Regions from separate parts of the Homo sapiens genome. Here regions 2, 3, 4, 5 and 6 are each linked to region 1. Evidence: fine-mapped expression QTL. A gene starts in region 1. Each other region holds a variant in brackets. All regions are shown on one strand. Distances are from middle to middle.

The links.
Region 2: its variant is fine-mapped to the expression of COQ2 in whole blood (TOPMed, PIP above 0.99).
Region 3: its variant is fine-mapped to the expression of COQ2 in T cells (TOPMed, PIP 0.99).
Region 4: its variant is fine-mapped to the expression of COQ2 in whole blood (TOPMed, PIP above 0.99).
Region 5: its variant is fine-mapped to the expression of COQ2 in whole blood (INTERVAL, PIP 0.95).
Region 6: its variant is fine-mapped to the expression of COQ2 in whole blood (INTERVAL, PIP above 0.99).

The regions. Positions count from the first base shown.
Region 1 is chr4:83,283,118-83,288,330 of GRCh38, reverse strand. COQ2 (coenzyme Q2, polyprenyltransferase) reads left to right here and starts at 3,533. Exons shown (of 7, transcript NM_001358921.2): 1 at 3,533-3,819. The coding sequence starts at 3,567. RefSeq lists enhancers at 3,401-3,695, 3,891-4,130 and a silencer at 3,501-3,830.
Region 2 is chr4:83,309,257-83,314,734 of GRCh38, reverse strand. It overlaps HPSE (heparanase), which reads left to right. Exons shown (of 12, transcript NM_001098540.3): 4 at 1,448-1,621; 5 at 3,845-4,013; 6 at 4,657-4,704; 7 at 5,240-5,333. It overlaps LOC105377313 (a long non-coding RNA gene), which reads right to left and starts at 641. Exons shown (of 3, transcript XR_938944.2): 1 at 616-641. The variant A/T (reference allele first, on the strand shown) is at 2,903.
Region 3 is chr4:83,899,150-83,904,627 of GRCh38, reverse strand. No RefSeq gene overlaps it. Among named protein-coding and RNA genes, the nearest start is that of GPAT3, 370 kb to the right of the region's middle. The variant T/C (reference allele first, on the strand shown) is at 2,621.
Region 4 is chr4:83,319,833-83,325,310 of GRCh38, reverse strand. HPSE (heparanase) reads left to right here. Exons shown (of 12, transcript NM_001098540.3): 2 at 2,947-3,092. Among named protein-coding and RNA genes, the nearest start is that of HPSE, 12 kb to the left of the region's middle. RefSeq lists an enhancer at 1,881-2,175 and a silencer at 3,719-3,912. The variant A/G (reference allele first, on the strand shown) is at 2,778.
Region 5 is chr4:83,325,623-83,331,100 of GRCh38, reverse strand. The region is part of intron 1 of HPSE (heparanase); the gene reads left to right. Among named protein-coding and RNA genes, the nearest start is that of HPSE, 6.5 kb to the left of the region's middle. The variant A/GGCA (reference allele first, on the strand shown) is at 2,422.
Region 6 is chr4:83,256,690-83,262,167 of GRCh38, reverse strand. No RefSeq gene overlaps it. Among named protein-coding and RNA genes, the nearest start is that of COQ2, 25 kb to the left of the region's middle. The variant TTC/C (reference allele first, on the strand shown) is at 3,180.

The DNA of each region.
Region 1 (5,213 bases):
GTGTGCACTGCAACCTTGACCGCTCGGGCTCAAGTGATCCTCCTACCTCAGCCTCCTGAGCAGCTGGGACTAAAGGAGTGCACCACCAAGCCCAGCTAATTTTTTTAAAGATTTTTGTAGCGATGAGGTCTCACTTTGTTGCACAGACTGGTCTTGAACTCCTGGGCTCAAGCAATCCTGCCTCAGCTTCCCAAAATGTTGAGATGACAAGTGTAAGCTACCAACCTGAGCTTCATAAGCCTCTTAACTAATATCCCTACTTATCTCACTGCTTGCCTACAGTTTACTCTCAACCCAGTATTGAGAGTAATTATTTAAAATATAAGTCAGTATGAGACAAGAACTATGAGAGGAAAATAAAATAAAATAGAAGTCAGGTCATGTCTCTGTTCTGTTCACAATCCTCCAATGGCTCCCTCTTATTTCACTTAGAGAAAAGCCAAAGTCCTTACCACGGTATGTAAGACCCCACACAACCTGGTCCCTAGTCCTCTCTGCTCTCATCCCTGATCTCTCTCCCTTTTGCTCACTCTACTCTATCCACACTGGCCTCCTTGCTCTTATTAAGAAAACACTTCAAGCTTGCTCCCATCTTAGGGCCCTTGCACTAGACATCCCTCTAAGAGTATCTAGTGATATTCTTCCCTCAGATCTCTCATAGCTACTCCCTTATCTCCTTCAAGTCTTTGAGAAAGTGAGATCAGGGCTGTCCTACCACCCCAATTACCATATTTAAGTATACATACAGCCTGTCCCTACTTTTCCCTGTTACTCTTCTTTTCTCCATACCACTTACCACCTTCGAACATACTGCAAAATCTATTTGATTACCTTTTTCAGTCCTTGTGATGTGGGGAGGGGTTGTCTTGTTTCCAAAGCCTTGTCAGTCATTGTAATTCATTCTTCTGGCCACCATAAAAAAGATGAGAGGTTTATTATTTGTTTTTTTGAGACAGGGTCTCACTCTGTCACCCAGGCTGGAGTGCAGTGGCATGACCATGGCTCACAAAGCCTCAACCTCGGGGGCTCAAGCAATCCTCCCACTTCAGCCTCCCAAGTAGCTGAGACCACAGGCATATGCCATTATTCTCAGCTAATTTTTGAATTTTTAGTAGAGATGAGGTCTCACTATGTTGCCTAGACTGGTCCTGAGTTCCTGGGCTCAAGCAATTCTCTCACCTGGGTCTCTCAAGTGTTGGGATCACAGGTGTGAGCCACAGTGCCTGGCCAGAATAATTTTTGACCAAATGTTTTGGCACTATGGCCTAGCCAAATTGACATGTAAAATTAACCATTTCAGTTCCTGTGGGTAATAGGTTTAAAACAAAATGAGTTCCTGCCCAATCCAAAATGAGGAATTGGCGTTGTGTACATGTACCCTAAAACTTAAAGTATAATAATAATAAAATTTTAAAAAAAAAGAAAGTCACTTCAAAAAAAACAAAAAACAAAATGAGGAATCGGAGCCTTACAGGCCCTTTTAGAGAAAGCCTAGTCCCTTCCTTTTCTGAAGAGTTTGCAGCAGTTAAATGGCTTTCCCAAGGGCATACTGTGCCTTGGCATTAGTCTAGAGGAGACTCCTGAAAGTTAGGGCTCTACTCTATGTGACTGTTCTCTTGTCCTACAAATTAGCAGAGTGACATGTGGGTACCCATCTCAGTTTCCTGTGCACTTTAATTGGACCAAATATCTTAGGATTGAATCACCTCTGGGCAGGGTCAGCATCATGGGTACATGTGCAGTCACCCAGGGCCTACGCTAAGAAGGACCTTGTACTTGGTTTAATGTCCTGCTGTTGCCATCTTGAAATTCTTAATATATTTTTTTAAACAAAGAGTTTGGACCTATATTGGAAAGTCATGGATGCAATACATGACTGATATTACACCCTTTTCAGGTTTGAGTCAGATCTAAATCATCTCCAATCTAACAACTAGGAGTGTTACTAAATTGCCTGCTGGCCTTTATTCTTTGCAGGCAGGAGAAAGGCTAGGTACCCCCTGCCTCATTGCACCAAAGTGGCCAGGCATCCAACTTGCTGTACTTGAGCCATGCAAGAAGTCACAGAATCATTGTACATGTTTTACAGAAAGGAGCCTAAAGACTAAGTCAACTTCCTAGAATATTAAAATCCAGATGAGTGACTTGCCTAGGGTTACTCAGTGAGAGGTTAAATGAGTTGATACATGTAAAGTGCCTGGCACACAGCGATATACAGAGTTGCTTATGAATAAGAGTACTGACCATCTGAGGCAGGAGGATCTCTTTAGCCCAGCTGTTCAAGACCAACCTGGGCAATATAGTGAGACCTCCTCTCTATGAAAAATTAAAAATTAGCCAGCCACGGTGGCTCGTGTCTGTGGTCCCAGATATTTAGAATGCTGAGATGGGAGGATCGATTGAGCCCAAGAGGTGGAGGCTGCAGTGAGCCATGATCCCTCCACTGGTCTCCAGCCTGGATGACAGAGCAAGACTCTGCTGACCAGACTTTTCAGCTTCAGGTTCTTAGCATCACACATGCTGGTTGTCTACTGATTACAAAAACTCCTTTGAAGGGCTGTCAAATTTAAAATTTTCACTTGTGTAATGAACATCCCTTAACCCTGAATGCGATTTTAATTTACAGTCTTGTATGTGGCCACTTGGTGCCCTTTTTTTTTTTTATGGCTAAACGTGTACGCAAATTCTTCTTTTGGATTCAGTAGGTTTTTCAAAGCTTTTTTTTTTTTTTCCTGGTACAACTGTTCCATATGAATAAACACTATCCTTTTCATTTTATGGAGAAAGCTGATAATAGGGTTAAATTATAGGGGGCCATTGTTTTGAACTAAGTTCCTGCACTAGGTCCCAACAGATCAGACTAAGAATCAAGAGTCACCCATGCTAAAGTTCCAAGTCACCAAACTAAAACTAAGTTGTATCTGACATTCTGAGAAGTCAGGAAAGAGAGACAACAGCCAATTTTCCAACCAGGCCATTTCAAAATGCAATCGTCATGACAATTAAGTTTCCTGTTTTAGTCCTTAACCTGGTGTAACCTAATGTTAACCAATCCGTTATTTCTCTGTTGTTGTTTCCCTGTCCCCGCCTCGCAATGAAAGTAATTTGAAGTGACCAATCCGCTTTTTGTTCTCTGCTTCTGCTTTCTTCAGCCCTTTTTCTGTCTATAAAGCCAACTTCCTCCGCTCGACTCTTTGGAACACTTATTCTATTTTACAGAATAAGGTGTTGCCCGATTCTATTTTTTGTTTGTTTCCTCAGAGACCCCGTTCTGAGTGTTGCCCGATAATGGAACCACAAAGTCAATCAAGATCGAGTTGTAAAAAATTACAACTAAATTTATTGTAATTTTTTTGCCTTTTGCCAATAGAAATCCCTTTTTCATTAAGTATTCCTCCCTAGAGTAAGCGACCACGATGACCCCAATTTCACAAGTAAGGATGAGGAAAGGTTCTGCCCACACCGCCGCCCAGCCTGGCAGACTAGGATTGCATCCTGCGGGTGCCACTGCGCATGCCTGCCGGGGAATGACGTCAATCCGAGCTCGTCCCGGCCTCACCAGCGCCATGCTGGGCTCGCGAGCCGCGGGGTTCGCGCGGGGCCTGCGGGCTGTGGCACTGGCGTGGCTGCCGGGCTGGCGGGGCCGCTCCTTCGCCCTGGCGCGTGCGGCAGGCGCGCCCCACGGTGGTGACTTGCAGCCCCCCGCCTGTCCCGAGCCGCGCGGGCGCCAGCTCAGTTTGTCCGCGGCGGCGGTGGTGGACTCTGCGCCCCGCCCCCTGCAGCCGTACTTGCGCCTCATGCGGTTGGACAAGCCCATTGGTGAGTGCGGGCGGGCGGGCAGCCCGGGAATTTGCAAGTAGCAGCCTCCGAGTCGGCTCCGCGGAGCTGTCCGCGGCGGCCGGCCGGGGCGTGATGGAAATGAGAACCTGAAAGCTTGGGCTTGGCTGCCGGGTGCCGTGCGCCCTGGGGCGAATCACCTCGGGACACTTTGAAATGAGAGCCTGAAAGCTTGAGCTTGGCTGCCGGCTGCCGTGCGCCCTGGGGCGAGTCACCTCAGGACACGCAGTCGGGACAGTCTCCTAAAGGACCCGCCAGTTTCACGTCTGTCTGCATCCTGAGCACCTGAAGCGGGCAAGATAATTCTCATTCCACAAACACTTGTTTAAATGGTGACTCAAGCGGAAGGTTCCGTTCTCGTGGCCCTCCTTCATTTATTAGAATGTTTGATCCTCCCCGCAATCTTGTAAGGCCCACAAAGACAATCCTTAAGACAGTTAAGACGCTGAGGAAACTAAGGCTCCTCGTCAGAGCCAGACCAGAAGAACTCTGTGTTTTGATGCTGAGTCGGAGCTCTTTTACCTGCATCACCCATAAGGCAAAGATTTAATTCATTTGAACGCAGCAGGGACAGCGCTTACGGACTGCCTGTCAGCTTACAATCGCCCCCGACAGAAAGATTTTCCTGACCTTCCTATCTTAATTAACACCTACCAACCTCACTTTCTATCGCTTTATCCGCAATTTTTCTTAATAGCACTCACCACTAACTAACCTTATGCGCTTGTTGATTGATTGGCTTCTCCAGTAGTGTTAAGTGAATTAATAAGTTCCTACTACGTTGTCCGGCCATAGAGATAGAAAAAGCTATGGAAACCCTTTGCTTTCAAGGAACTCTGGTCTAGTTGAAAAAGACTATTTGGTGAGCTAGGAAAATATGGATCAAATATGAGTGATACAAAAGCAAGTGCTACAGGAAAAAGAGAAATTACTGTGGATCCCTTGCTGGAAAGTTTCGAGAAGAAATTATACTCCAAAGGACAAGTTGATTTTGCAGAGGAGGGAAGAGATCTTAGTGCGGGAAGTACTTTTGCAAAGACCCAAGGGTGGAGTGTTAGAACACTAAGAATACGAGCCTGACCTGGAACACCAAGTGGGTGTGGAAAATGGGAAACGAGACTAGACAAGAACATATCTGAAGAAGCTGGATAGCGTGGAGGAAGAAGTGAAGGATGAACTCCAGCCAATCTAGATGATGACATTTGCCATTGCAGTGTATGGAGATGTAGTCAAAGGCCTAGGTACATTTACTCCACTTTTGCCCGTACAAGACCCGAATTAGGCCTTGCTTTTGGTATTCTAGATTTATGCACGACCTATTTGGGATTAGAGCACTAAGTTATAACAATCAGCTATCAAAGCATAAAAGCCTACTG
Region 2 (5,478 bases), 26 kb before region 1:
AAGAGTTCAGGAATGAATTACTCTTTAACAAACGACTATAGATATACATGAAAATTGGAAGGACTTATTATGCATATGATAATCAATTTAAAGACAACACTTAAAATTATATTGTTGCCACTCTCAAAAAGTGGTAATAGAACAGCTAATGGTTTAAAAAGCAGAGTACAGAAGTTCCCAAACTTATGGCACCTTAATATCGCAGAAAACTTTTTAAAGCATGCCTAGGCCACAAAAAATACCTGTATTTTGATTATTAAATTGTAAGGTCTACACAACCTAATAGTAATAGGTCCAATAGTAATGCTGTCCAATAGATGTTGATGTTTTTTTCCTTGCAAACTTAAAAGATCCTACAGTGCCTCTGTAAATAGCACTGCCTGGTTAGAGTTGAATTTCAGATAAATAATTTTTTTCATGTTAATTATTTTTCTTTTCTTTACTTTTTTTTTTGTTTGTTTTTTTGTTTTTTTTTTTGAGACAGGATCTCATTCTGTTGCCCAGGCTGCTGTGCAATGGCATGATCATGGCTCACTGCAGCCTTGACCTCCCTGGGCTCAGGTGATCCTCCCACCTCAGCCTCCCAAGTAGCTAGCTGGGACTACAGGTGCTTACCATCATGCCCGGCTAATTTTTGTGTTTTTTGTAGAGATGTGGTTTTGCCATGTTGCCCAGGCTGGTCTTGAACTCCTGGGCTCAAGTGATCCGCCCGCCTCGGCCTCCCAAAGTGCTAGGATGACAGGCATGAGCCACTGCACCTGGCCCCTGTGCGAAGTATTTCTTAATGGTTACATAGGACATACACTAAACATTATTTATTGTCTATATGAAGTTCAAGTTTAACTAGGTGCCCTGCACTTTTAGTTGCTAAATCCTGTAGCTGTACCCATGCATTCACTGGTGCTCCCCAGCTTGCCTTGCACAGAGTTTGGAAACCATAGTCCTATAACTCTAGGCCAATTTTTTAATGTAAAATTTGATTCATTTTAAATTAATAAATCATAACAGGAATTTTTTTAAAAATTGTTTTAAATATAATTAAAATTATCAAAATATTTTTTAACTGAACTTGTGACTAGAGATATTTAGATTATGAAGAGTGGGGTTTATGCTAACTAATGACAGTCTGGCTATGCATGTGGAGCACTGAGCTATAAATTGTGGCTTCCCCAATTCTCCTGATGTCACTTGAACAAAACCTAAGTGTCAGACCAGAGCTTCTGGTATCTTCCATGGGATTTCATTCAACAGCTGGAGCAAATGAAGTCAGATTGATTTTTTTTAATTTGTCCAATTTTGTTGTCTCAAAAACATAATTATAATCATTTATTAGAACTAGAATTTCTTCAGTTTAACAACAGAAATAGTTATTCATTATGAAAAGCGAATCTGGAGGCCTTCATTGTGGTGCCAATCTAACCATTAAATTGTGACGTTTTTCTTTTAGGAAGCTCTGTAGATGTGCTATACACTTTTGCAAACTGCTCAGGACTGGACTTGATCTTTGGCCTAAATGCGTTATTAAGAACAGCAGATTTGCAGTGGAACAGTTCTAATGCTCAGTTGCTCCTGGACTACTGCTCTTCCAAGGGGTATAACATTTCTTGGGAACTAGGCAATGGTGAGTACCCCAGGGAACAATTCATTAATAAGGAGATCCCCCACTAGCATTATTTCTTTTCTTTTCTTTTTCTTTTTTTTTTTTTTTTTTTTGAGACAGAGTCTCGCACTGCTGCCCAGGCTGGAGTGCAGTGGCGCCACCTCGGCTCACTTGAAGCTCTGCCTCCCAAATTCACGCCATTCTCCTGCCTCAGCCTCCCGAGTAGCTGGGACTACAGGCACCCGCCACCGCGCCCAGCTAATTTTTTTTTTTTTTTTTTTTTTTTTTTTTTTGCATTTTTAGTAGAGACGGGGTTTCACCGTGTTAGCCAGGATGGTCTTGATCTCCTGACCTCGTGATCTGCCCTCCTCGGCCTCCCAAAGTGCTGGGATTACAGGCGTGAGCCACCAGGCCCGGCTAGCATTATTTCTTATGACACTTTTTTTTTTTTTTTTTTGAGACGGAGTCTCGCTCTGTCGCCCAGGCTGGAGTGCAGTGGCGCCATCTCGGCTCACTGCAAGCTCCACCTCCCAGGTTCACGCCATTCTCCTGCCTCAGCCTCCCGAGTAGCTGGGACTACACGCACCCGCCACCACGCCCGGCTAATTTTTTTGTATTTTTAGTAGAGACGGGGTTTCACCGTGTTAGCCAGGATGGTCTCTATCTCCTGACCCCATGATCTGCCCGCCTCGGCGTCCCAAAGTGGTGGGATTACAGGCGTGAGCCACTGCGCCCGGCCAACACTCTTTTTATTATTAGCAAATATACTTCTGCCTGGGCACATTCTTGCAAGTGCTCAACAATGCAACTTTTGGAAGTGCATGTGGCAGAAACTCCTACTGTATTTATTCCAGAACCTATTATTGCTAATCCCAGTTTATGTTACATTTGAAGTGAGAACCAGTTGGAGCCAGCAACGTTCCCAGCTCCAAAGTTCCCTTGAGATTTTCAGAATCACTTAACCCTATTATGCTTGGCAAGCTGGACTCAGCAAAACTGGGAAGTCAGCAGTTTGTTTTATTCATCCCTTCCTTTCTCATTTTCTCAAATGTGTCAGTTAATCTCAGTAACCCCATTGCAACCTTCATTACCTGCCCAAACGGTCTAGAACTTGCCAGTATAGAATCCTACGTGGGTCAAGCTCCTGACTGTCTCCTTCTTCACTCTTTTTTTGCAAAGAACTTGTAAATTTTAACTATAAGTATTCATGATTCGCCACATTTATTCAAAACATAGAGTGCTTTTTCCACATATCAGCCAATGGAAATAAGGATTAAATGGGAAATGAAATGTAGTAATAGG[A/T]TAAGCACAAGTCTTCTTCCTGCTCAAACTTTTTTTTTTTTTTTTTTTTTTCAGACAAGATCTTGCTCTGTTACCCAGGCTGGAGTGCAGTGGCGTGTTCATAGCTCAATGTAACCTCCAACTCCTGGGCTCATGCAATCTCTCACACCTCAGCCCCCTGATTAGCTAGGACTACACTATGCCTAGCCAATTTTTTTTCTTTTGTCTGGTTGTGTTGCCCAGGCTTGTCTCGATCTCCTGGCCTCAAGTAATCCTCCTGCCTCGGCCTTCTAAAGTGCTGGGATTATAGGCATGAGCCACTGTGCCCGGTCTCAAACCTTTTTTTCCAAAGTAAATGAAGTTATTAGATATGGAATATAGTCTAGTTCCCAGATATCCATATCCATTGGTTTATTACCCTCATTATTAACTTCAAATTGTTTAATAGACCCTCATATCTCAGTTATACAGTTAAAATTTTTGTTTTGTTTTTCTGGAGTATCTTATTTATAACTTTGAGTTTTACTTTACTTATTTATTTTATTTTTTGAGACAGACGCTTGCTCTGTCACTCAGGCTGGAGTGCGGTTGCGTGATCATGGCTCACTATGGCCTCGACCTTCTGGGCTCAAGTGATCCTCTCCCTCAGCCTCCCAAGCTGAGACTACAGGCATGCACCACCACATCTAGCTAATTTTTTTTTTTCCCCATGGAACAGGGCTTTACTATGTTACCCAGAGTGGTCTCAAACTCCTGGCCTCAGGGGATCCTCCTGTCTCAGCCTACCAAAATGCTGGGATTACAGGCATGAGCCATAGCGCCAGACCTGGTTTTACTTTTCTTGACTTTGAATTACAAGTTTTTGTAATTTGGAAAATGTTTTGTTGCTTTTAAATACTGCTATATGTTTGCTTTTAAATACAACATTTCTCGATATATATTTTGAGAATTGCTGTCTTTCAGAACCTAACAGTTTCCTTAAGAAGGCTGATATTTTCATCAATGGGTCGCAGTTAGGAGAAGATTTTATTCAATTGCATAAACTTCTAAGAAAGTCCACCTTCAAAAATGCAAAACTCTATGGTCCTGATGTTGGTCAGCCTCGAAGAAAGACGGCTAAGATGCTGAAGAGGTAGGAACTAGAGGATGCAGAATCACTTTACTTTTCTTCTTTTTCCTTTTGAGACAGAGTCTCACTCTGTCAGCCAGACTGGAGTGCAGTGGTACAATCATGGCTCACTGCAACTTCGACCTCCCAGGCTCAAGCAATCCTCCCATCTCAGTCCCACAAATAGCTGGGACTACAGGTGCACATCACCACACCTGGCTACTTTAAAAAAATTTTTTTGTAGAGATGGGGTCTCCCTGTGTTGCCCAGGCTGGTCTCTTGAATTCCTGTGCTCAAGCCATCCTTCCACCTCAGCCTCCCAGAGTGCCAGGATTACAGGCATGAGCCACCACACCCAGCCACCACTTTTCTTAAAAAAAAAAAAGATTCTCTCTGGTAGACAATCCTCAATAGTCCACATGTTATTAAACAATCTGCTGCCTGAATACATGATTTACCAAAAAAAGGAAATTTTGACGGGTTCAGAATATCAAGGGATCTGAGGCAAATGTCACCTATGATAAAATTTGCTATCAAAATTAGGAAGTTTGTGTTTACCTGATCCTAAAGCAGTAACCAGCCCATTTCTAGGGAATAAAACTCTCATGCGTATATTGTGCATATATATGTATTATATGACTGAGTGATAATAAAATTTTTTTTCTAGCTTCCTGAAGGCTGGTGGAGAAGTGATTGATTCAGTTACATGGCATCAGTAAGTATGTCTCCTATTCTTAATACTAGGAAAGTAAGGCTAGCTTTATTTATTACCTAGTATTCAAAAAGTTAGTTCATTTAACTGCCAATTGACTGCAGTTCAAATAAGAAACAAATAGTGTCTCAAGTAGCACTGTACTCCAATTTTAATATTAATAAAAAAAATTTAAAGTTATTTTAAATAATGTAGTGGTTTCTATAAAGATCACTTTATACAGAAGAACAGTGCCAATTAACCCATGGAACATATAAGTAGCTAAAACCAATTGCTTGCCAAAGAACCAGTAACCCAGGAGTACATGTACTTGCCACTGTGTTTTTTCAAGACAGAGTAACTGATTTCTAGTTACTTGCATAGAATGGACTCCTCCTCATAACTCCCTTCCATCTTGGTCTTTCCCTAGTAGAACTTCTACCTTTTTTTAGTAACAGGTGAGTGGGAGAGGTAAGAAGGAGAATAAGGTCAGCAATTAACCTAAAAGCAGAAAGTAAAATTTGTTATTTTTTTTCTGAATATTTTCTGTGTAATTTAGCTACTATTTGAATGGACGGACTGCTACCAAGGAAGATTTTCTAAACCCTGATGTATTGGACATTTTTATTTCATCTGTGCAAAAAGTTTTCCAGGTAATAGTCTTTTTAAACTTTTTAATGTAAAACCAGAATCCTTATTTTATAGTCTAGCTAGTTCTAAATTCTATAGGTATGTATATTTACATGTTTTTCTAATTTTAGAGAACAAGCACTATGACTTATCCACTGTTAGTTTTCC
Region 3 (5,478 bases), 620 kb before region 1:
GAGTTCTATAAAGTTGCACAGCTATCTGAACCAAGGCTCCTTCTAACATTCTCAAAAAACTAAATTAACATGAAAATGAGCAGCAGGAATGTATTGAAGTCTATATCTTAGATAGTTACTATAAGAGAAAAGATAAATAAGAAACAGAATAACATCCTTATAGTTCAGGTCTGCCCAATAGAACTTTTCCTGGTGATGGAAATGTTCTATATCTGTGCCATCCAACATAGTGGCTCCTAGACACATGTGACTATTGACTAATGAGCCCAGGGAACCAAATTTTAACTTTATTAAATTTTAACTAATTAAAATGTAAATAGCTATATGAGGCTAGTTGGTACTATATTGCATAGCACAACTATAGAAAAGAAAAGCATGCCAGAAAAAAAATTTCAAAAAGCAATCAAAACTGTAACATAATACTTCAAAATGATTTAAAGTCATTAAGAAAGTAATACAATATGACAGTAACATAAATCAAAATTAGAATAATTGACTGAGATAACACTCAAGAAATAATTAGAAATTAAGAAACAATTATTTTAAAAGTGAAGACTTAATTAAAAGAAAATGAGTAAATAACAATACTTTGAAATAAATAGAAGAAAAAAGGAGAAAAAAATTAAACATCAAAAGCAAATGAAGAAAGAGATGAAAATGATGTGGGAAAAGAGAGAAATATTGAAGCAGTTAAGAAGACCCAACACACGGATAATATGAATACCTGAAGAAGAAAACCAGTATTGATAAGCACTAAAACAAATTCTCAAGAATATAATTCAAAAACAAATTTCTGAAATAAAAAAGACTTGAAACTACATATTGAAAATGTACAATATATACTTGAAAATATAAACCCAGAATAACAAAAAGCAAGAAATAAATATTCTTGTAAAAGAACAGGAATTTAAAGAAAAAATTCTTTTGGAATCTGGACTAAAGAACATATGACTTACATAATTGATTGGATTATTAGTCTGTCATTAGACTTTTCAACAACAGTTTATCCCAAAAGAAAACTGAATAACTGATTTAAAACACTCAAGAAAAAAAGTGCACCAAATATTTTATATTCAGAAAAACTAACATTCAAATATACAGGAGACAGACAGCAAGCGATAATAGTTCAGTTTCTATTCTCCTCACGAGTACTTCTCAAGGAATCTACTACAGAACAAGCTTCAAACAACCAAGATCAGTAGAGACTGGTGAAAAACATTAAGTATGTAGCAATTTATAGAATTAAGTGAGGATTAAACGGGAGAAATTATAGTATGTAATGGCTATGTGATCTAATAATACAAATCCAGTAAAATTATTAAAAACTGTGGGGAGTACAGGACTAACATATATAAAACAAATGATAACCTGTTTTCAGTTTTTTTAGAATTGGCAATGGTAGTATTAGTATTGTTGTTCTCACCCTATTGTATGTATACAAAAGGAAAACAAATAATTATGGGGTTTCCTAATTCTATTACTCCTGTGCCCTTGAGAACTAAAATTCTTGGTGCAGAATTCAGAAGACAAGGATATAATATAGATCCAGATAAATTAAAGCACACTAAGCTTAAATATAAATTGGAAATATTGGTATGAATTTATAAGTATTTTGTGTGTTTACACTAAAAATATTTATTTCAGTAATATTTTATATTTTTGTATTTACATAATACAATATATAATGCATATATTATTCATATTATAAAGTGCGTATGTGTGTGTCCTAGCTCTGTCCACTGAAAAGGCCAAGAAACAATGATCAACCAAGTAGAAATAAGGCTCTCTCGTACTTAGGCTGTGGTTTTGAAAAACCATCTCTATAAAAAAAAACAATCAAGCAGCAGAGCTTTTCAAAATATAGCTGTTTTCAGGTCAGCATCAGAAAATGTACAAGATGACCCTGAAACATCTTGACATATCAAATGGATAGCAAAGAGTCCATGTAAGATTACTAGGGTCATGGCAAAAGGTCTCAGAAATCAATTCCTCAGGATCTCACTGGCCAAAGATGAAACAATGTAAACTCGAATAAGGATAAGCAGTCCAACAGATTGAAAACCAAGAAATACATTTAAATTATGTTTGAAATCCATGAGTTCATATGAACCAATTGATCTTAAATTAAGTAAAAAGACAGCAGTCTGTCACTAGATAAACAAATGATAGATAAGGGGACTCACCTCCTTTAAAATCTTCTTCAGCGAATAAGAAAAAACAAAATGATAGAAAAACACTCTTTTTTAGCCCCCAGTGAAGGAATACATTTAAGTATTGAGACTTAACAGCCGCTGACATCACAAAGAAACAAAAACCAGATTTGATATGTCTCTCAGTGAAGTGACACAAAACCAAAGGGATCAAGCCTGAGATGCAGCTGACAACGTTTAGGAAATCAAAGTGGTAGAGTAAGTTATTAAATTGTCCCTTGAGTGTGCCATTAGCAAAATCTAGACTGCAGGTAACTCTGCAGCTAAGTAACCCAAGTCCTTCAACAGGTAAGTTATGAGAAAGTGAAAGGGTGAAGGGGGCCTATAGGATAAACAGGACTTAAAAGAGACGTCAAGTTAAAAAGGAATGGGCAAGATTAAACTGTAGTATCCAAGGACTGATACTTGAG[T/C]AATAAACCATAAGGAAATTCAAGTAAGTAAAAATAGGGACTAACAGAAAGTAAGAGAGGACATTGTAATTAGGATCAGGTACCTAAAGGAACTTCTGTAGTGACTGGAAATATTCTGTTTCTTGGCCTGAACAGTGGTTACAATGATCATTGGCTCAAAATAATTCATTAAGCTCTACACTTGTTTTGGATTTTTTTTATATCTATGTGCATGTGTGTGGGAATTTTAGGCATGGATTTTCTAGAAGAATAGAAGGAACTTGAGTTTGACTATTTCCACCCTTTCTGCTAAAATGAGGTAACAAGATTTGATCCTTTGTTAAAGAGAACTTTATGGAAGATAAGACCTTAAGTCTCATCATGGTTCCACCATTACCTTCTGCAAGACATCATGAAACACTCAATGGCTCTAGTCTTCAGGTTATCTTCACCATAGCCAGGCAAACAAGGCCTGCACCATGTGGCTCAGGAGAACATTTTCAGCCTCCACTTCCATTCCACACAACTGCCAAGCCTCTCACTTCTGTTCATCATTATCCAAACATGTCTCCATATCTCTCCCTTTATGATTTCCTTAATTGTCCTTATTCTCATGCCTTTAACCCATTACCCTTTGTAATCTACTTCAAATGTCACTTCTCGGAACTCTGAGTTTAAGCTACTTTTTCCTCTGTGCTTCTAGACCACTTTGTATGTGTAGCTATTGACATAGGAGTTACCATATTTCTAACGTTGTTATGTCTGTACTCTCACTAGACAATGCGGTTCTCAAGAGCTGCATTTTCAAATCTGCAGTTCTAGTACAGAGGTTCTAGAAACATTGAATAAATGGATGGATGCATGGATGGATAGATATATAAAAACAAGAGGAGGTAGTAGAAATATTAAGTTACTTTAAAATCTAACATTTTATGATTCTTTTTTCACATTAGGTGATAGGCAGCCTTTGATAAAGTGAAGATCTCCTAGGACTTACAAATTAGTAGGAACAAAATATCATGCTGTGCTCCTGCCTCATCTGAGGAACTGGGATGTTTTCTCCTTGCAAACGCTGCAATGGATAGTACTTCTCTGGTCCTTACCATTGTATAATGACAAGTTTAGTGTGTGTGTGTGTGTGTGTGTGTGTGTGTGTGTGTGTGTGTGTGTGTGTTTTGCTTGCACCACTGTGGCTTCCTTCTTAGCTTTATGGAAATAAATGTCCATTGAGGATAAAGAAAGAAGAATTAGAAAAGAAACAAAGGGTAAAACCCAAGCCTGGACTAAATGCATAGATACAGTGTTAATCTTCATACTGGGAAGAAATGAAATTTGAGATGAAAACACAGAGAATAAGAGACAGATGCTGGTTTACATTTATTTACTTTTCCTATACCAGTCACTCAATCTAAGTTTCTTCCTCCCTACCTATGCAAATGCAGTGATGCATAAATATTCTCCCATGAAGAAAGTTACTAGTTTTATGTAACTAACTTCATTTGAAGTACCTGTAATTAGTGCCTGTAGAAGCCCATTATACATATTAAGAAGGAATCATAGTATTTAGACAAGAAAAACATAACATGTACATTTGGATAAGGACCAAATTTCCTTCAATAAGAAATAATACTATTCCCTCTGCTACACATAAACTACATTTTAAAATTCTCCTTCTGCCGAGCTGTAGTATATTACATGAACCTTACAATTTCTGCAACATTTCAATTGTTTCCTTATTTTTCTGGCCTTTTCTTGTTACTTGTTTAAAAATCTCCTTGCATTGGCCTCCTGAGCCTGTTGGAGTAATATTATGAAGCAAATGACCAGACATAATGACTTTCCAAGGTCCTTGTGCTTCCTTATTAACATTCAGGTAGCATAAGTCCTGACTTTATTATTGACTACATTGAATACACAAGACACTGACCTCTGCCATCTGCAACTAAATCTCTTCCTGCAGATCTATTGGAATGGTTTCATATATAGAGGAAGCAAGAGAAAACAAAGCAGCAGCCACTTATCTTTTCTGTCCCTAGAAACTTTAACACACTCACATCTGCAATCCAAAAAAGGAAAGAAAATCCCCCTTGTAAAATCTAGAGTGAGGGTTAGAGGAAAAATTCAAAATGGCAATCCCAGATTCAGATTCATCTTCCTACACTAAGACCACTAAATAAACAGAATCAGATATATCTGGCCACTAGAAAGCAAAATCACCAGCATATGTAATTGATTACTGAGTCTCAAAATCAACTGATAGGACCCAAGGAGTATTTTCATTAGGTCATGATCACTTTAACTTGTGTAATTATGGGAAAGTCTGCCAATTTAAGATTGTTTGACATTTCCACTTATCCCCACACAAAAGGATTGATGACATTTTCTAAGTAACGTATGAAATAGCAAATTGTCTACCTTGGTCTTGAAGCTATTGGTGAGTCTCAGAAATGGAGCCCAGAAGACAACAAGGACATGATGTACTGAGTTTTGTTCTGAAGACCTAAACTTGAGTCTTGATTCTGCCACAAACTGTGTGGTGGAAAGTGACTCCAACTCCCTGAATCTCAAATTTTTTAACTTGACAAATAAGAGGATAGTAGATAATCTCATGCCAACATGAGCCACTTATGTAGGAATTTATCACCATTCCTTTCTTTCCCTCCTCTATTAAATTGGATTTGCCTTTCTCACATTAGAGGAGCATGTAGCCCAATATATCTTTGCCACCAGAGGTGAAATGATTTAGCCATATGTCAATTTTCAGAGATGGTAAAAAGTAAACCCATGCCCATATAGGCTGCTTAAAAAGTGAAAGTTTTCTCTCAGCATACTTAATTGAGTGTTTAATAGAGACATCGATGTTAGGAAGGGCAAAGGCA
Region 4 (5,478 bases), 37 kb before region 1:
GCGTATAGTCCCAGCTACTAGGGAGGCTGAGGCAAGAGAATCGCTTGAACCCAGGAGGCAGAGGTGGCAGTGAGCCGAGATCATGCCACTGTACTCCAGCCTGGATGACAGAGACCCTGTCTCAAAACACACACACACACACACACACACACACACACACACACACACACACACACACACCAAGTTGTATAATTTAAAATATAACGTGCTTGTTATGGAACACTTGTAAAATACAGGAAAGTAATGAAAAAGTCTACCATCTAGCTCACCACATAATGACCATTGCTATCATCCTGGCATAATTCTCTCCTGTATATAAATATATATTCTTTTATTGTTAAAATTACACTATGAGTACTATTTATTTATTTTATTGTGGCAAAATGCGCAAAACATAAAATCTTGCCATTTTAAGGTATGCAGTTTGGTGCATTCACCACACTCACATTGTTGTGCAAATATCACCACTATCTATCTCAGAACTTCTTCGTCTTCCCAAACTGAAACTCTGTACCCATTAAACAATAGTGCATCCTCTGTTTTCCCCTCCCTACAATTTATTTTTATTTGGGTTTGTACCAAACTGAAAATAGCTGCTTCTTCCTTACTTAGTTCAGATTAGCATTTCCATTTATTTAGCCGTGGTTTTGAGGATGCCATGACAGATGCCATCCTTCCTAGAGCTCTTTGGGGCTGTCAGGTATTTCAGTCAGGGTGAATTCGGGTTGATAACATTTTAAAATCTCACTTTATTCTGAGGTTCCTAGTGTCAGAGCCCACCGTATTTTTAGGGACTCCCAAGTTACAAACAAAAATATGGTGAGGAGGAATCACTGAAGTTTTAACACAAGAGACTTACATTTTGTTCAATTTCTATCTTTTAGTTTATTTCCTAAGCATAAAGAAATACTTTGAAAATTTTACATAGCATTATACATATTTAATTAAGCATGAGCACATCTTAAAACTTTAAATTTTAGATCAGATCTTTAATTCCTAGGATATTAAGAGGTACTGGCAATTTGGCCAGGTGTGGTGGTTCACGCCTATAATCCCAACACTTTGGGAGGGTGAAGTGGGCGAATTGCTAGAGCCCAGGAGGTGGAGGCTGCAATGGCCTGAGATCACGCCATCGTACTCCAGCCTGGATGATGAGAATGAAATCCTGTCTCAAAAAAAAAAAAAAAAAAAAAAAAAGAAGAAGAAGAAGTATTGGCAATCAGTGCTCCAGGAATAATTTCCTGACTTGAAATAAACCTACATGTAGACAAACTAATTAGGCCATTCCAAGAGTTGCTAGCATTGGTTTAATATGTTTTCAGAGCATTCCAGGAAGCAGTGTGGCCAGCATTGCATGTTTGATACTTCAGAAATGTATGACAGGTGTTTCTCTTACCCAGGTCTTCTGTTTTCTTAGTTTTGCTCATGTAAATATTTATGAACATCCTCATCTTTTTGAGGGAAGGGATTATAGATCATTCTAATTCCATTTTCTAGCATTTGGTACCATTCTAAGCACATGATAGGCACCCATTTGGAGCATTTTTGGCTTGACAGAATATGCATTTAGAATTGTTCAAATTAGAGGTGTCAGTGATGGGAATTAGAATACTATATAATTCTAAGTCATTTGACTTAAATACAAAAGAATGATTTTCCTTGGTGGGGAATGGTGAAGGGAGGCAGGAGTTAAGAAGAGGAGAAGAGATCCTAAGTCATTTATAAACTTCTCTGGAAAGACAGGTGTGTGAAGACTTTTTAAAAAGTCATTCACCAAATTGTGTGTGTGTGTGTGTGTGTGTGTGTTTTAAATAGACTTTATTTTTTAGAGCAGTTTTAGGTTCACAGCAAAATTGAATGCAAGGACAGAGATTTCCCATAAACCCCCTGCCCACACACATGCATAGCCTCCCTCATTATCAACATCCCCACCAGAGAGGTGTTTGTTCTAGTTGATGAACCTACACTGACACATCATTATCACCCAAAGTCCATAGTTCACGGCAGGGTTCACTGTCGGTGTACATTCTATGGGTTTGAGCAAATGTATAATGACATGTATCCACCATTATAGTAACATACAGAGTATTTTCAGTGCCCTGCAAATCCCCTGTTCTCCACCTATTCATCCCTCCCTCTCTGCATTTCCACCCCCAGCCCCTGGTAACCGCTGATCTTTTTACTGTCCCATAGTTTCGGACGATCTATTTTTCAGACAGACACAGAGCTGTCTTTCCCTTAGTTTCTATTCTATCATTTCTTTCTCCCCATCCATCATAAAAGGCTATGAGTTTTTTTTAAGTGTTGAACACCATCCTACTTGTCAAGTTAAAACATAAGCTCCTGGCTGGGTACAGTGGCTCATGCCTGTAATCTCAGCATTTTGGGAGGCTGTGGCAGAAGCATCACTTGAAGCCAGAAGTTTGAGACCAGCCTGGGCAACATAGCAAGACCCCATCCCTCCACACACAAACACACACACACACACACACACACACACACACACACACACACACACACAAACAAGCTCTTGCCAGAATTAGAGCTACAAATTGCCCTCAGGTTCCTAGAAGATCAGTCCTTCAATTAGATTCAGATTGAGATGCTTCCTCTTTTAAACAATGATTCCCTTTCTATCATGCCCAATAAGAAAACAAATAAAAATTAAACAATACTGCCTGTAATCTCAGCTACCCAGGAGGCAGAAGCAGAACTGCTTCAACCCGGCAAGCAGAAGTTGCAGTGAAGTGAGATCGCGCCACTGCACTCCAGCCTGG[A/G]AAACAGAGCAAGATTCTGTCTCAAAAACAAAACAATGTGATTTCCTCCTCTAAGTCCTGCACAGGGAAATGTTAAGAAATAGGTCCACCAGGAAAGAAGGAAGTAAGAATGTTTGACTAGATTGTCTTGGAAAAAATAGTTATACTTTCTTGCTTGTCTTCCTAACAGTTCTCCAAAGCTTCGTACCTTGGCCAGAGGCTTGTCTCCTGCGTACCTGAGGTTTGGTGGCACCAAGACAGACTTCCTAATTTTCGATCCCAAGAAGGAATCAACCTTTGAAGAGAGAAGTTACTGGCAATCTCAAGTCAACCAGGGTGAAAATTTTTAAAGATTCACTCTATATTTTAATTAACGTCAGTCCGTCATGAGAATGCTTTGAGAAAACTGTTATTTCTCACACCTAACAATTAATGAGATTAACTTCCTCTCCCCTCATCTGACCTGTGGAGGAATCTGAACAAGAGGAGGAGGCAGTGGGCAGGTTTCCTTATCATGATGTTTGTCATGTTCAGTGTGAGGCCTCACAAAAAAAAAAAAAAAAAAAAGGCGTCCTGGATATAACTGAGAGCTCATTGTACAGTAAATATTAATAAAACAGTGATTGTAGCTGAAGGATAGAACTGCTTGGAGGGAGCAAGTGGGTAGAATCGCGTCAAACTAAAGAGCATTTCTAGCCAAAGACACAATGATAGATTGAAGGATATTTATTCTAAATATAGAATATGGGTGAACGAGATCTGTGGACTTCTGGGCTCCAACGTTAGATTCTGATTTTAGCAAGCTTGTCAGGGGATTCTGATATTGAAAGGCTGTGGCCTTCACCTGAGAAACCTGCCCTAGGGGGCCATGAAAATTTGTCCTGTCTTTCAGAAGTGCTATCAGACATCAAATGGAAGTTAAATCGTATCTTAACAATTACTAGGATGGGCGCAGTGACTCACACCTGTAATCCCAACACTTTGGGAGGCTGAGGCAGGAGGATCACTTGAGCCCAGGAGTTCGGGACCAGCCTGGGCAACATAGAGAGACGTTGTCTCTATTTTTTAATAATTTAAAGAGAAAAAAATACTGAAAATATTGTATACACCACTGAATTATAATAATGTGTATATAACGTATATATTCATTATGAGGAATATTTGATTATTTCATATATTATATCTTTTCCTTCTGTTTATTTTATCCAGTTATGAAGTATTTAGAACAATTCATCAGTAATTGGGGCTAAATTGACAGAATAGTAATCAGAGAAAATAGAAAAAGACAGATGGGTTATCTTTGAATACCAGGTTGGAGTTGTTTATGGGTTTGTTTTTTGTTTTGGGGGCGTTTTTTTAGACAGAGTCCCACTCTGTTGCCCAGGCTGGAGTGCAGTGGCACAAGCATGGCCCACTGCAGCCTTGACCTCTTGGGCTCAAGCAATCTTCCCACCTTAGCCTCCTGAGTAGCTGGGACCACAGGTGCATGTCACCACACCCAGCTAATTTTTTTATTTTTTGTAGAGACAGTCTTTCTATGTTATCCAGGCTGATCTCAAACTCCTGCACTCAAGTGATCCCCCTGCCTTGGCGTCCCAAAGTATTGGGATTATAGGCATAGCCACCACACCCAACCTAGTTTCTATTTAGACTTGGCCCTTTCCCACCAGTCATTTGTGTCCAAAAGATCTCATAAATGTAGACAGGAAACTGTCCTTTGCTCATCAGTTTTCTTCATCCTGTGTCTAGGGGGATGGTCGGTGGGGGAAACTGGGGTTATGCAAGTTCCTCTGAAACATCCTCTGTGAGCCCAGGGATGGATGAGGCACCAGCCGCCAGCGAGTCAGTGTGCAGCTTTCCAGAAAGGAAGTCATCAGCCAGTCAGCCGGCCCTGGCAGCCAGCACCCGGCAACCCTGCTGTCTTGTGATAAAGAAATGGTCTGCCTGACAGGATGGTGTGGATTTTTCTTTTTTCTTTTTTTTTTTTTTGAGACAGGGTCTGGCTCTGTCGCCCAGGCTGGAGTGCAATGGCGGGATCTTGGCTCACTGCAGCCTCTGCCTCCCAGGCTCAAGGCATCCTCCCACCTCGGTCTCCCGAGTAGCTGGGACCACAGGCACACACCACCACGCCCAGCTAAGTTTTCGTATTTTTAGTAGAGGCAGGGTTTTACTATGTTGTCCAGGCTAGTCTCAAACTCCTGAGCTCAAGCTATCCATCTGCCTTGGCCTCCCAAAGAGCTGGAATTACAAGCGTGAGCCACTGTGCCTGACCAGGGTGGATTTTTTCAAGTGCACATGTTGTGGTCCCAGAAGCTCTGATGGTACCAAATTCAAAGCGAAAAAAAGTCAACGGTTCCCACCCATCCTACCTCCCATGATGGCAAGAGGAAAACACCACACTGCAGATACAGTCCATGTAAAACAAATTGCTATGGATTTTGAAAGTGAACCTTAAGAGAACTGCACTATGTTTTCTTCATTAGAGTTCTCTGGTAATTTCCAGCTTTTTTTTTTTTTTTTTTTTTTAGACAGTGTCTCGCTTTGTCGCCCAGTGTCACCCAGGCTGGAGTGCAGTGACGTGATCTCGGCTCACTGCAACCTCCGCCTCGTGGGTTGAAGTGATTCTCCTGCCTCAGCCTCCTGAGTAGCTGTATTTTAGTAGAGACGAGGTTTCACCATTTGGCCAGGCTGGTCTCGAACTCCTGACCTCAAGTGATTCGCC
Region 5 (5,478 bases), 43 kb before region 1:
TCCCAAGTAGCTGGGACTAGAGGCATGCACCACCACGCCTGGCTAATTGTGTATTTTTAGTAGAGACAGGGTTTCACCATGTTGGCCAGGCTAATCTCAAACTCCTGAGCTCAGGTGATATGCCCACCTCGGCCTCCCAAAGTGTTGGGATTACAGGCGTGAGCCACTGCACCCGGCCTCAGATTAACTATATTTCAAGCGTTCAGTAGCCACATGTAGCTAGTGCTATGGTAGTGGACAGTACAGATCTGCATTTCAATTAAGACACGTATACAAGCATAGTTCACTAATGCACGGTAAAAAAAAGTATAGTGCTGAGTCGGTGGTAGAAATCCTAAATACTGCAGAGCAAAAGTGGTACGAACAGCAATCTCAGTGATAATGCAACCATGCTTGCTTTTCATTGCAATTTGCTTATTTTCCTTCAGCAAAGTTCATCCATTTTTGCCAATTCAATAAATATTTACTGATAAAAACTTTCAATATTAGATTCTTGCATCTTCATAGACAGAGTTGCTTTTCACATTTAGAAAATTACTTATCAATGTTAAACACACGTTTTGATAACCAGTGTTGGAAAGAGGTGCAGACTCCCCATGTGCCTATTGATGGCAGAAATATTCACAGCCAAAGGGAAACAAAGGGCTGGGGACAATCACACACCTCATGTCTCCTAACTCCTGGGAAGTGCTGTCCCTCTGATTGAGCTCTTATTATTGCCTTCCCCACTAACCCTGTCCACTGTGCCCTGGAGCCCTTTGCAGGGTTACCTGCTCTGTCCTCCTCACAGAATATCTCCTCTACCTCCTTGTCCAAGCTACAACTTGGCTATTCTCTGATGACACTGTCTTCCCTGTAGCCCTTTTGAGTAATGGCTGCATATTCTCCCATAGTCCAGTTCTTTTCCTGTTCTCCAGTCTGGCTTCTGGATGACAGCCCACTAGTTTGAACTCCATACTGCTATAGTTCAAGTCCCTTTTGACTTGTTACCTTGGGCAAATTACCTCCTTTTGTTCAGGTTCCTTGTTTGTAAAATGACGATAATAATGCCATTTGCTTCAGTGGGTTATTTTGAAATTGAGTGAAAGAAGGCGGGTAGCTTCCCTACACGCTCAGTGTAGACTAGCCTGATGTGCATTACGGGTGATGCCATGACTCAGTGTGTTTTCCTCATCTCCACATCTGGCTCTCATCCAGTGCTCCTGCTTACGGCACTCTGTCCCCCTCTTACTTACTCCCCCTTATTAACTGAAGACTGGCACTGATCTCACAGTTTCCTCTCCACTTCCTAGTCTCACCATCATCCTAGATGACTTCAAGTCACCTAGATAAACTGTCTCAGTTTCTTCACTCACATTTTTTTATAACAGATAATGTTACACTCAAGTTGTAACAGAACCAGCTTATCCAGCTCATGAAATGTATGCATTTCATCTCAACTCTGTATTCAGTGACATCCTGTGGGTATCTGGAAATCAGCCATGGTGAGAATATTTACCATGGAAATTGGCAAATACTAAAAAGCAGAGCACCTTTTTTTCTGAGAGCCAGACCATAGCTCTTCTACTCCATAGCACCCATCATAACAATTTTTAAATACCTCCACTGAACAGCTTCTTCCTCTCTCTACTTCTTCCATATCTGATTTGAGCTTCTTAATTTATCATGTGAACCACTCTTGTAATAATAACCCCAAATCCCTGTTCCATTGTTCTTCCTGCTAAAATACTAAACCTGGTTTAGTCCAACCATATTTTCTCTCTTTGGAATCTACAGGGTGGCCCAAAAACCTGGAAATGGAAAAATATTACTTATTAATTTTAATGTATATTAATAAGCCATTTTAATGCTTCATTTCCAGTCTCAGTGGCCACCCTGTATAGCTGGGCTATTGAGCTCTTGCGGGAGGAGGGAGTGGACAGTCTCCCAGCCACACAGACTGATGTTGCACCAAACATTTTTTAGCTTCCAGACTTCCCTGGCCCTTAGTGTTACCCTTAACTCTCCATTTCTCTGCCTTTCACATTCTCTACTTTTTAAAAATCTCTGACTCCACCTTCACCTTATCATTCTTAGCACATGACCATACTTCTGCTTCCCAAAGAAAATGAGCAATTACTTCCTTTTCCTTTTCCTCCTGTCATCAAATCTGCAGACATGTCATGCCTAAGTCCAGCTTTCCTCCTTTCTCTGATCTCAGTCTGCTTCTTCCATTTCTGCCCTGAATCCCGTCCCCTCCCCAACCCCCAAGGACTTCGCTCTATCAGTCACCTCTTCCCTCTCCTGTATCTTCAACTCCTCCCATTTTACTGGCTTCTTCCTCAAGCCTTTCCCCAAGCCTTTCCCCAAGCCTTTCCCATCTCAATTACCTCCTCGCACATGCCTCTGCAGAAACCACCCCGTTTCTTCCCTCCCCTCGGC[A/GGCA]GCCTGTTCTTCCTGTTCTGCCCTCATGATGGCACCATCATTGTGTCACTAAAATCAATCTCTCCGACATCATCAATGGCCTTCCTTTGTTGGGAAACCTAATAAACACTTTATCTTATTTGGTCTTTGTTATGGGTTGAATGAGGTTACCCCGAAATCCATATTAGAAGTCCTAACCCCCAGTACCTCAGAATGTGACTTTATTTGGGAATAGGGTCATTGCAGACGTTATTAGTTAGGATGAGGTCATACTGGAATGTGATGGGCTGCTTATCTAATATGACTGATGTCCTTATAACAAGGAGAAATTTGGAGACAGACACGCACATAGGGAGAATACCATGTGATGACAGGAGTTATGGAGTTGGAGTCAAAAAGCTATGGGAACTTAGGAGAAAGACCTGGAACAAATCCTTTCCTGCGCCTAGAGAGGGAGTATGGCCCTGCCACTACCTTGAATTCAACGTTTCGGCTTTTCAAAACTGTAAGACAATACATTTCTGTTGTTCAAACCAATTAGTTTGCAGTACTCTGCGACTGCAGCCCTAACAAACTAATACAGTCTCTTGGAGGCATTTGGCAAGGTTGACAATGGAAGCACTTTCTTACCCCTTTAGGTCTGTCGCCTTTCTTGTTGGGGGGTGTTTTCTAACAATTCCTCTCCATCTCTCTCTCTCTAGTTTGTCTTAAACATTGGTGTTCTTCAGACTTCTGACCTAGGCCTTCTTTTCACTTCACATATTCCCCTGGGTGGTCTCACCCACTTCCAGAAATTACTTAAATTACTGCTCATGCAGTACTGTGCTGGAAACTGTTTAACAACTGGCTCTCTGGGAAGAGGGGAGACTGGTTGATGGTTTTTGCTGATTTCTGTGGTGTAAATACTCCCTCCATGGCCAATTCCAAACTGCCAACAGTTTAACAACTGGCTCACAAATTTTCTCCAAATTTAACATTTGGCTTTCACAGGCCAACAACGTGGTACAGCCAACTCCAGCACACCTCTGCTTTTGTGTCAGAGAGAAGTAACTTATTTTTGTACAAAAGGTAAAATAAAAACACCTGCAGGCCCCCTTTTTTTCCTTAACAAACTGCTCTAGAAATAGAATAGCTGAAGCTTCTTTTATGCATTCATCTGTTATTTCCATGTCACTGTGGTGGTGGGATTATTTTTCCTTTATTTTTCTTGTATATGGTTGAAATACTGTACCTTTGATCAGTTTTAGTTTTATGGCATGTTTTGCACCCATATTAAATCTAGTTTTTGTCAGAGGGCGTCAATATTATTTTCTCAAAACAAGAAAATATTTCATTGCAAAGGAGACAAACAAAAAGGTCCTTAATACCAAAACTTTGAAATGTGATTTCTTGTACTTGGCAGTGTCCAAGTGGTAAACCCAAACAGTATTGGGTTTTCATTTTGTTCAGGAAAGTCTTTGTCTGGCAGCGACTTACCCTTACATCAGGCGGGCCTTGCTCATTCATTCACTTAAGTATTTATTAAACACCAGCGGTGTGCCAAGTACTTATCTAGGTATCGGGTAGATTCTGATAAGTCAGTCAGGTCCCTGCTCTCAGGGAGCTTGCAGCAGAGATGGGGGCTGCAATAGAGAGTAAGCCAAGGAAATGAAAAAGGAAGTTGATTTCAGAGAGTGATGAATGCTATGAAGAAAATGAAGGCAGCGCAGTGTGATGGAGAGTGACCCAAGGTGGTACAGTTTGTACCTCTAAGGACCAGGCTGTGACCCAGGTCACTCACAGATGCCCGTCATGTGATGCCACAGCAACTTTTCCAGGTGCTCGTTTCCTCCCACTTCCCAGTCTCTTGCCCAGCCGCGACTGCTTACAAATACAGCTAGAGGAATCTAAATGAGGTTCCTCTATCATCAAACCCAATCAAAATGCCAAGGAACAGAATCAGTGCCTGGCTGAAGGCAGTGGAACAGGGCCAGCCTGGAGTGGTTCTCTCTGAGGAAGTTCCTCATCTTGGTTTTAGGGCCATACCTTGTGACCTGTGAGCTAGGGGTTGCCAGTCCCTGACATTTCTACTGAGGACTCGCCTGTCTATATTCCCGGCCTGTATGTGTCTCCTGAGTTCCAGACACACAGGGCGAAGCGCCTGATGGATGGAAGTATGTTTTTTGGTGTTCCATTGGTATCTCAAATTCTACAAAACTTAGTGCCCCTTCTCCTCCCTGTTCCTCCCCATCTTCAGTCTATCACCTGTTCCTCATCCAGCAAATGATATTACCATCTTCCAAGGAGCTTCCCAGGAGTAATCCTTGACTCCTCCTCAACATCCAATTAATAATCAAATCTAGGCCAGGTACAATAGCTCATGCCTATAATCCCAGCACTTTGGGAGGCTGAGGCAGGTGGATCATTTGAGGCCAGGAGTTCAAGACCAGCCTGGCCAACAAGGTGAAACCTGTCTCATTTAAAAAAAGTTATTTTAAAAACTCAAATCTATTATTTCTACCTCTAAGTGTGTCTTGAATTTATCCATCTCTCTCCATCTCTGAGCTGTTACCTTACCTCAGTCCATCACGTTTTGTCTACGTTAACATGACCAGAGTCTTGTTCTTAGTCTGGTGAGGTCACTCCAGCTGCTTCAGATCCTTCCATGGCTCACCGTTGCCCTCATATAAAGTTGGCACTCCTGGACATGTGGCTTACGGGGCCCTCCGTGATGTGGCCCTATTTGCTTCTCCATTCTGTTCTCTCCCAGCCTCTCTGCCCCCATCTCTAGGCACCAACCACACCCTTCTGCTCGTCAATGGTGCCAGCTTCTCTTCTATCTCTGGTCTTTGGACAGACTTTTCCCTTCACCTGGAATGCTTTCTTCAATCCTACCCCACTCTCTTTAATCTAGATAAGGTTTATTCTTTTTGAATGTCTAGCAGTGAAACCATTTCCCCTGAAAAACCTTCTCTATCCAACCCCCTACCCTCAGCCCAAGGTCTAGATTAGGAGTCCCTCTGAATGTTTCCATAGCATTTTTAAAGAATTGCCTATTTACTTGTTCGTATCTATCACTAAACTACAAATTGTATGAGA
Region 6 (5,478 bases), 26 kb after region 1:
AGTTGAAATGACCAGCATTGCCGTGGGAATTTATTCAGTGAGGAGGGCCCTTGCCCTACTCTTCTGCTTCAAAGTCACTGTGAGTTTTTCAATAGAAATCATGTGAAAGAACTTTTTAAACTGTGGACAATTATCTACCACAATTTCATGATGGGGGTGGAGATAGGATGGGAGCTACAGGGTCTAAAAAGTAAATGAATACAACTATTCCAGCTCTAACTGACCTGTCCTCTGAATTCCCAGAGCACTTGGTGGGTGCCAGTGGAGCAGGAGCTGTGAATGCCAGTCACAGCCACAGCTTGCCAGGGTTGGAATCTGCTTTAACACCTATCAGTTGGGTGATCTTGGGCAAGTTCCCTGACCTCTCTGTGGCTCACTCGGGGATAATCATAATACCTTTCTCATGCATTTCAAAATTTTCTGTCTTCCCCTGCGAATGGAGATTTCATGGTAAGTGGGACCTTGTTTGTCTTATTCATTGAAATATCCCCAATATACCATATCACAAGGGCTGCCTCTCCCTCTTCCCGGATTTCTTTGCTAAATTGTTTAATGCCTCTACCTGATTTTTATAATCTGGCCTCACCCTAATGTTTCCTCCAACTGAAAGTACACCCTCCACCCTCTGGGTGCCAGTGGAGCAGGAACTAAGAACGCTATCATGACGACAGCTTGCCAGGGTTGGAATCTGCTGTAACACCTGCCTACCAGTTGGTTGCTCTTGGGAAAGTTCCCTGACCTCTCGGTGGCTCAAATACTCAAATAGGTATAATCCTAATACCTTTCTCATGGATTTAAAAATTCTCTGTCTTCCCTTGCGAGAATGGAGATTTCATGATCAGTGGGACCTTGTTTGTCTTATTCATTGAAATGTCCCCAGTATACCACACTGTAAGCACTCAGTAAACATTTGTAATTTTTGTACATCGGGTGAACTAACATTAGAGTTACTTGTCAGACCTGGTGTTAGGTGCAACCATTAGAAATTATTAATGCTGGCCAGTCACGGTGGCTCACACCTGTAATCCTAGCACTTTGGGAGGCCGAGGCGGGCGGATCACGAGGTCAGGAGATCGAGACCATCCTGGCTAACACTGCGAAACCCCGTCTCTACTAAAAATACAAAAAAATAGCCAGGCATGGTGGCGGGCGCCTGTAGTCCCAGCTACTTGGGAGTCTGAGGCAGGAGAATGGCGTGAACCTGGGAGGTGGAGCTTGCAGTGAGCTGAGATCGCGCCACTGAACTCCAGCCTGGGTGACAGACCAAGACGCTGTCTCAAAAAAAAAAAAAGAAAAAGAAATTATTAATGCTGTTCAACAACATAAAAAGTTGACTATGTGAGGTAACGTTACAAAAACATTTTCATGTACATATCATCAAAACTATATAAGAATATAAGTAATGCTGCTGTCTGCCCACCAGGTGGCCTTGCTCTGTAGGAGCAGTCACAACTCTTAACAACACTGGAGCGTAACACTGCCTTTTCGATAAAGCTGTTTTATTCTATCTCTGGCTTGCCCTTTGCCCTTCTTTCCTGGGCAAAGCCAAGAACCCTCGTGGACTAAGCTCCACTTTGGGGCTCATTTGCCCTGTATCAATGGTAACACCTATTTCTTAGGGTTAATGTATAATTTAGAGACTATGCAACACATTTAATATAGGTGCTGGCATACAGTAACTAATTTTTAACTTTAGAAATTAATCAGGCCAGGAATGGTGGCTCATGCCTGTAATCCCAGCACTTTGGGAGGCCAAGGCAGGTGGATCACTTGAGGTCAGGAGTTCGAGACCAGCCTGGCCAACATGGTGAAACCCCATCTCTACTAAAAATACAAAAAAAATTAGCCAGGCTTGGTAGCACACACCTATAATCAATCCCAGCTACTCAGGAGGGTGAGGGAGGCATGAGAATTGCTTGAACCTGGGAGGCAGAGGTTATACTATACTTCTTTTGTAAAATCTACTTTTTTCACTTAATATTTTCCCATGTCATTAATGCTTCTTTCAATATATTGATGTTTTTTGGCTGCATGGGTTTTTATCATATGTATGTACTGCAATTTAATTAATCCTATCATGGATTTTAATATTTACATTTTTTCCTTCTCACAAGCAGTACGGCCATGAATAGATTTGTATCATTGGGCATATCTGTGAATATTTCTGTAGGAAAAATCCTAGAAGCAGAATGTCTTTGTATGTGCATGTACATTTCCAGGGATTGGAGGGTAGGTATGGAGGGTGGAGTATGGTGGTAGGCACATTTTAAAGGATTTGGATTCATTTTCTCAAATTACCCTACAGAAAGCTACACATTGCTAATAGCAGTGCATGAGAGCCTCTTTCTCAGACCTTGGCCAATATGAAAGGATACTATTTTTAAAACTTTGACACATAGGCAAGAACAATATGTGGTTTCACTCACAACTCTGTGATTACTAAAGTAGTTGATCTTTTTCAAAGTGTTTATAGAGCATTTTTATTTCTTCTGTGTGAGTTGCCTTCATGTCTTTGCCCATTTGGTTATTGTTGTTGTTGATGTACGCTGCCTCATTCATTGATTATATCCCCAAGATCTGATATCTGACAGACTTGTGCTCTCATTTTACAAGATTATCGTGTTATTAATTGTGATGGGATTTTGGATTTCATGCTTTATACTGAACTATCTCTTCCATGGAGAAGGTAACATTTAACATTTTTATAGTTGTTCCAATTAATATGTATTATTCAGACAGTCCAAACATTTGTTGAACATCTGTGTGCAGGCACAGGCTAGTTGCTGCAAACACAGAGATTAATTAGAGTTTCTATCTTCAAAAAGCTCAGAATCAGTAGCTGGGATTACAGGCACGTGCCACCATGCCTGGCTAATTTTTGTATTTTTAGTAGAGACGGGGTTTCACCATGTTGGCCAGTCTGGTCTCCACCTCCTGACCTCAAGTGATCTGCCCACCTTGGCCTCCCAAAGTGCTGGGATTACAGGCATGAGCCACTGCACCTGGCCTCTCTCTCTTTCTTTCTTTCTTTTTGTAGAGACAGGGTCTTGCTTTGTTGCCCAGGCTGGTCTTGAACTCCTAGGCTCAAGCAGTCCTCCTGTCTCAGCCTCCCAAGTTGCTGGGATTAGAGACGTGAGTCAACCTCACTCAGCATAAATACTTTTTTTTTTTTTTTTTTT[TTC/C]AAATAAAATCGTACATAAAACCCCAACAAATACGTACAGATGGAAATCAGAGACAGTCCCCTTAAACTGAACCTTCCTTTCTTTTAGGATTGTCACAGAGCCCAAGTTGAAAACTATCTCTTAGAGATAAGAATGAACATTGGAGTCCCTACAGTTACTAACTGAATGACTTAGAGTGAACTATTTAAACCTCTCCAGCCTATCTCTTTATATCTAAAATGGGAATTAAAATAATATCTACCTCATGCTGGTGTTTTAAGAATTGCATGAGAAAATGATCTCATCTAAACTCCTGACTTTAAATGTCATCTGTATACTGATTATTCCCAAATGTGTACCTCCAGCCTAAACTTCCCTTTTGAACTTGCACTTGGCAGAATTGAATATTGAACTGCCTACTTGATATTTCAACATGAATGCCAAATAGGCACCTCCAGTTCAATATGTTCAAAACTGAACTCCTGATCTCAGCCTCAAACCTCCTCCTCCCACCCTTCTTGCCATCTCATTAATGGCATCTCCTTTTCCTTTTGCTCTGACCAAAACCTTGGAATCAACCATGACTCCTTTTTCCCACATTCCATATTCAAGACATTAGAAAAGCATATTGGTTCTACCTTCAAAATACATGCAGAATCTAATCTTTTCCTACCACCTCCACAGCTGCCACCCTGGCCCAAGTCCCTATCTTCTCCCCGCTGGATTAACACATTAGCCTCCTCACTGGTCTCCCTCCTTCTCCCTTGCCCCCTTTCATGTGTCCTCACCATAGCAGCCAGGCCGATCCTGCTACAACCAAAGCCAGCGTATGTCATTCCTCTAACTCAGAACCTCCCCATACCTCCCCATTTCTCCCAGTGTAAAGCCAAAGTCCTTAGCATGGCTGAAGGACCCTCAGTGAGCGGGCTCCTGCTGCCTTCTGGCTCTTCTTCCACTCCCTCCCTCGCCAGTGCTGCTGCAGGCCTTCTGCCGCTGCAGCCTTCTGGCCTCGTTGGGGTTCCTGGAATGCTTTCCTAGATGTTGCCATGGATACTTCCTCACCTCCTTCAGTATTTGCCCAAAAGTCACCGATTCAGTGAAACCATTGTCTTCATTTTCTAAGACTTAACACACACCATTACACAAACTTCTTTTTCTCTCTCACTGCTTTTTCTCCATATTAAAACATATGATATACAGTCATATGTCACTTACAGATGGAGATACTTTCTGAGAAATGCATCATTAGCCAATTTCATCCCTGTGCAGACATTATAGAGTTCATGTACACAAACCTAGATTGTCTAGCCTACTACACACCTAGGCTATGTGGTATATAGTCTATTGCCCCTAGGCTACAAACCTGCGTAGCATACTGTACTTCATGCTGTAGGTAATTGTAACACAATGGTAAGTATTTGTGAATCTAAACATATTTAAACACAGAAAAGGGCTAGGTGTGGTGGCTCACACCTGTAATCCCACCACTTTGGGAGGCCAGGGCAGGAGGATCACTTGAACCCAGAAGTTCAAGACCAGCCCAGGCAACATGACTAAACCCCATCTCTACAAAAAATACAAAAATTAGCCGGGTGTGGTGGCACATAGCTGTAGTCCCAGCTACTTGGGAGGCTGAAGTGGGAGGATTACTTGAACACAAGAGGTAGAGGCTGCAGTGATCGCGCCACTGCACTCCAGTTTGGGCAACAGAGTGAGAACTTGTCTAAAAAAAAAAAAAAAGAAAGAAACACAGAAAAGGTACAGTGAAAATACAATATAATCTTATGGAACCATTGTCCTATATGTGGTCCATCATTGACTATAACATTGCTGTGTAGCACATGACTGTAATTTGTTTTACTTATTTTCTTTGTTGTGTGTCCTCACTAACAAGAACCTAACTTCATGAGGGCACAGATATTTTCTGTTTGAATCATCATACTTTATTTCCAGTGTCTGGAATACTGCCTAGCACATAGTAAATTCTTAAAAAATATTTGTAGAATGAATCACGTATATAAAGCTTTTAACAGCACAGTATGTGATTCATTGCCTTCAGGCATTTTTAGCACTCTTTTTCTTCTCCAAAGGATTTATCTTTCCAGAAACCATCTATGAGGAACTGTTCACTTAAGAGGAAGCTGAGGCCGGGCACGGTGGCTCACGCCTGTAATCTCAGCACTTTGGGAGGCTGAGGCGGGCGGATCACGAGGTCAGGAGATCGAGACCATCCTGGCTAACATGATGAAACCCCGTCTCTAGTAAAAATACAAAAATTAGCCGGGCGTGGTGGCAGTCTCCTGTAGTCCCAGCTACT